Linked DNA regions of Homo sapiens: region 2 is linked to region 1. A link means that fine-mapping ties the variant in region 1 to the expression of a gene that starts in the linked region. Tissue or cell type: esophagus muscle. Region 1 holds a variant in brackets; the other region holds the start of a gene. All regions are shown on one strand. Distances are from middle to middle.

Region 1 (2,688 bases):
TGCAAAGGAAAAGTTCTTGAAGGAAATTAAAAGTGCTACTCCAGGGAATACATGAATGATATTAATAAGTGAAACAGTCATATTGCTGACATGGGGAAAGTTTTAGTGATCCATATAGAAGGTCAAACCAGCCACAAAATTCCCTTAAGACAAAGCCTAATCCAGGGAAGCTGAGAGGTGAGGAAGCTGCAGAAGAATAGTCTGAAGCTAGCAGAGGTTGCCTCATGAGGCTTAGGAAGCTGAGTCTATAATACATAGAATTGGTGAGAGCAGCCATCTCTATCTTCTTCCTGATCTTAGGAGGAAGTGATCCAATCTTTCTTCACCATTAGTTATAATATTAGCTGTGGGGTTTTTGTTTTGTTTTGTTTGTTTTTCAATTTTTTGCTGTGGGTTTTTCATGGATGAGCTTTATCAGGTTGAGGAAGTTTCCTTTGATTCCTAGTTTTTATCACGAAGGAGTGTTAGATTTTGTTACACGCTTTTTTAGTGTCTACTGAGATCATCATGTGGCTTTTGTGTTTTATTCTTTTGATATAGAGTGTTACATTAATTGATTCTTGGATATTAATCTAACCCTGCATTCCTAGGTCAAATCACATTTAGTCAGGATGTGACTTATACTTGCACCTTATACATCCTGACTAAATGTGATTTAACCCAGGAATGCAGGGAGGGAGATACTGCACGTTCAGTTCCAGACCACTGGAAGTGCTCTGAATTAAGCTTTGGCTTAAGGGAATTTTGTGGCTGGCTTGATCTTCTGTGTAGACCACTAAAACTTTCCCCCTATCAGCAATATGGCTGTGTCATTTATCATTCATGTATTCCCTGGAGTAGTACTTTTAATTTCCTTCACTGGAAAAATTGCAATAAAGCAAGTATTGCAATAAAGTGAATCACACAATTTTTTTTTGGTTTCCGAATGCATATAAAAGTTACATTTACGGCTGGGTGCGATGGCTCACGCCTGTAATCCCAGCACTTTGGGAGGCCGAGGTGGGTGGATCACGAGGTCAGGGGTTCGAGACCAGCCTGACCAACATGGTGAAACCTCATCTCTACTAAAAATACAAAAATTAGCCAGGCTTGGTGGCACACACCTGTAATCCCAACTACTCAGGAGGCTGAGGCAGGAGAATCGCTTGAACCTGGAAGGCGGAGGTTGCAG[T/C]GAGCCAAGATCGCGACACTGCACTCCAGCCTGGGTGAGAGAGCAAGACTCCATCTCAAAAAAAAAAAAAAATTACATTTATGCTATACTGTAGTATACTAAGTGCTCAATAGCATTCTGTCTAAAAAATGTATATACTTAAATCTTAAAATATTGTTTTTGTTTGTTTGTTCTGAGATGAGGTCTTGCTCTGTCACTCAGGCTGGAGTGCAATGGCCCGATCTCGGCTCACTGCAACCTCTGCCTCCTGGGTTCACGCCATTCTCCTGTCTCAGCCTCCCGAGTAGCTGGGACTACAGGCGCATGCTGCCATGCCCGGCTAATTTTTTGTATTTTTAGTAGAGACGGGGTTTCACCGTGTTAGCCAGGATGGTCTCGATCTCCTGACCTCGTGATCCGCCCAGCTCAGCCTCCCAAAGTGCTGGGATTACAGGCCTGAGCCACCGTGCCCGGCAATATTGTTTTTTAGAAAAGCCGCAGTATGCTATGTTTGCACCTGTGAATAGCCACTGCACTCCAGCCAGTGCAACATAGCAATAATTTGTATCTAGGAAAATAAAACAAAAAGGCCGGGCATGGTGGCTCACGCCTGTAATCCCAACACTTTGGGAGGCCGAGGCAGGCGGATCAGCTGAGGTCAGGAGTTCAAGACCAGCCTGGCCAACGTGGTGAAACCCCGTCTCTACTAAAAATACAAAAGTTAGCCGGGCATGGTGGCAGGCGCCTGTAGACCCAGCTCAGGAGGCTGAGGCAGGAGTATTGCTTGAACCTGGGAGGCGGAGGTTGCTGTGAGCCGAGATCACGCCACCGCACTCCAGCCTAGGTGACAGAGCAAGACTCCGTCTCAAAATAAATAAATACATAAACAAATAAGTAAAACAAATAACCTAACATTTAAAAAAAATGTATTACTGGCTGGGCACAGTGGCTCATGCCTGTAATCCCAGCACTTTGGGAGGCCGAGGTGGGTGGATTGCCTCAGCTCAAGAGTTCAAGACCAGTCTGGTCAACATGGTGAAATTCAGTCTCTACTAAAAATACAAAAAAATTAGCTGGGCATGGCGGTGTGCGCCTGTAGTCCCAGCTATATTACTAAATAGCTTTTTTGGTGAGGATATGCCAAGAACCTCAAGTTTGAACCGCTTCTTATCCAAGGCTGCCATCTCAGTTATCTTTGATATGCTACGAAGCACCTGGCATAAGTTAAACAGAATTTATATGTGCCACGCGATATGAAGACGGCATACTAAGCATTTGTCACGTTAAAAATAGCTGTGCTGGCCGGGCGCGGTGGCTCACGCCTGTTATCCCAGCACTTTGGGAGGCCGAGGCGGGTGGATCACGAGGTCAGGAGATAGAGACCATCCTGGCTAACACGATGAAATCCCTTCTCTACTAAAAATACAAAAAAAATTAGCCGGGCGTGGTGGCAGGCGCCTGTAGTCCCAGCTACGCAGGAGGCTGAGGCAGGAGAATGGCGTGAACCCGGCAGGCGAAGCTTGCGGTGAGCCGAGATC
Region 2 (2,688 bases), 650 kb before region 1:
TAAATTGGCCCCAGTATTTCTGTCCATAAGGAATGAAGCATTTTTATTTGGGAACCCTATACACAAAGTGAGACCCAGGATATAAAGGAGTAAGGCAAGAAGAACAAGAAGAAATGTCATTCTCTTCTGCCTTGGCACAGCATGGTTATCACAGCCTAAGAACAATAATAATGGCTAATTTTGGCTAATAAGATCTCCAACTTTGACTTTCTCCTAAATAATGTGGGTCCTTGCGTGAGGATATTTTCTAAAGAAGCAGCAAAGATATTGCCATCATTCATTTGCTCAGTGGTGTCACTAAGAAAAATACTTCCAGAAAGAAAATTAAGGCCAAAACACTTCCTTAAACCAGGCGTAAAAGTCCTCTAACAAGGAATTTAAAAGAAAAAGATCAACACCGGATTTATCTTTCTTAAGTAACTATCACTTGAAAAACCGTCCCTCCCAGCACTCCTTAAGGAGCCAAGCATACTGACAAGGCCCCTTTGGTCTAAGACTGCGACCTCACACCCCTACTGATCGCTGAGAACTCAGGAAAGGGGAGCATCCCGCCAGCCTAGAGCGTTATCTGCACAATCTGAATACCAAGGACGGGAGAAAGAGAAGTTTAGAAAACAGTGAAGATCCCAGAAAGGAAGTTCAACTGACCTAGAAGAAAGGGCCCAGCTGAAACTGCCTTTCAAGCTCAGTCCGATTCCCCACAAATCTCCCTACATCCAGCTATATCGCCCGGCAAAATGAAACAAACACAAGGTAAGGCAATACAAGGGCAGGAATTATGCAAAATAAAATGCGTAATGAGGATGTCTCTCCATCAAAAATACTCCAGGATTTTCCTACACAATCCCATGTAACAAAACCAAATGCAAACAACAATAAACCCTTAAGAAGCGCATGAACAACGCAGACTGAGCCCATCTCGCCCCACCTCACGCCGCACCCCGGTACCCTGGCTAAGGAAAATGTGACCCCCGCCCATGAGAAGCCTTCCGGCGTCCGGCCAAGGTCCAGGAGCCGCCGGAGTTGAGTTTGCCCAACTCTTACCCAGGTCCAGAGATCTTGAGAATCGCAGCGCAACCTTTTCTCCCCGGTCTTCACCCAAAGCCAGCCAAGACACAAAATCTGTTCCAATCAACGCGGTTAGCGTCCAAGCAGCGTCCCAGAAGAAAGCAATCTTTGGGAGTCTTCTTTCAGGCGTAAAGGTGGAGAAGCGGGAAAGAGGAACGTCTCAACGCGTTCCCAGTCGCCCAGTTTTGCGCACCGGGAAAGTACTTGCTGCAAACTTGAACAAGGTTTTCTCTGTCTGGCCCGAGATGCTGGAGGGGGTGGGGGCGGGTAACCCGAGCCGGGGCCGGGATTCGAGCAGTTGCCGCTGCTGCAGCTGCTGCTGCCGGGGCAGTGGCCGCTGGGGGGTTGTCGCTTGGCGCCGCGCGCAGTCCCTAGCGCAACATGCAGGATCTTCCCGGCCTGACTGCTGCACCTCGATCGTGAGTCGCCCCTGCCTGAGCGGCTTCCACCGCCTGGTGGGTGACCCCGCCAAAGGCCTGGTCGCGAAGTTAGCAAATGTTGGGGTCACCGCAGGGGGTGACCGAAGGGGTGTCAGAGTGGGTGCCCGCCTGATTCCCAACCCACGTTGGGTGCAAGTCCCTCGGCAGAGTCCCTGGGAGGTGTTCTAGACCCTCTGTAAGGATTTGTGGGACGGTGGCCGGCGCCCGAGCGGCCAACTGGAGTGGACGGCGGGTCCTCAGTGGTGTCAGGGGAGAAAGCGCAAAGGTGGGACCCAGAAAGGATGGTGATTAAGCCGTGCCAGAGAATGTGATGTGGCAGCAAAGTACATGGAAAGGTGGGGCGGGGAGGTGAAGGCAGAGGGTGGAGGGTGGGATAGTCTGCTTTACCATGGAGGGGCGGAGAGAGAACTCCCCGGACGCGCAGGAAAATCCCCCCAGGTCCTCGGAGGCCTCGCGCGGCAATTTATTGGGGAATGGCTCCCTCTGCCGACTCGCCGAGGAGGCCCCGGGAGGCCCAGTGATGGAATGTTAAAACCATGAACGGGCTTTTCCATTTGTGGGTTAGACAGGACATGAATTCTGGAATCTGCTTCTCTGACTGTCCATCTTCCTCTTCCAGACTAAAGAGTTTTCCAGCTTTTACAGGACCCCAAAAGATACAAATTTGACTGCTGCAAAGTTCTTTCTTGTGTCGTTGAATTCTATCCCCCTCTCCCCACAAAAAAACAAAAACAGGTTTAAGCCCCATAACCACTCCAGGTAACCATCTCCTACCAGGCTTCTCTTCCTCCCATTAATAAGAACTCTTTCTTTTTAGAGAGACTTCAAGAGCGTTCGAGTCCCTACTCAATAACGCTCCTGGAAAATAGTACAGACTCCATATTATGTTTGAGTGAATAAATGAATGGAATGAATGAACATAGATATGTTTGAAGCCCCTCACCATCCTCTTTACTCTCCCTGGAAATACACAGGGGAAGACTGTTTTGGTGTTTGTTTATTTGTTTGTTTAGCAGTCATCATTGCCCCTTCTCTGGTAACAGTACCTCCATTTTTCTTTGAGATACCATCCCTGCCACAAGGACAGCAGTCTGGGTGGAAGGTCAGTCAGGATGGTCCAGCTTTTCCCTGTCCAGAAGAGAGCAACTGACCTCAGCTAAGCCCCTCAGGCCCTCTCTGC

Alleles and levels. Alleles are on the strand shown, and positions count from the first base shown. SD is a standard deviation of normalised expression in the study named.
For the expression in esophagus muscle of the gene that starts at base 1,305 in region 2, C is the high allele of the variant in region 1 and T is the other (moderate effect, 0.48 SD a copy in GTEx).

Evidence for each region. PIP is the estimated chance that this variant, and not a neighbour inherited with it, causes the effect.
Region 2: MEGF10 starts here. The variant in region 1 is fine-mapped to the expression of MEGF10 in esophagus muscle (GTEx, PIP 0.91).

What each region holds. Positions count from the first base shown.
Region 1 is chr5:126,638,658-126,641,345 of GRCh38, reverse strand. No RefSeq gene overlaps it. Among named protein-coding and RNA genes, the nearest start is that of SPMIP10, 8.3 kb to the right of the region's middle. The variant T/C (reference allele first, on the strand shown) is at 1,172.
Region 2 is chr5:127,289,413-127,292,100 of GRCh38, reverse strand. MEGF10 (multiple EGF like domains 10) reads right to left here and starts at 1,305. Exons shown (of 25, transcript NM_001256545.2): 1 at 1,045-1,305. It overlaps LOC105379199, which reads left to right and starts at 1,365. Exons shown (of 4, transcript XR_007058921.1): 1 at 1,365-1,523.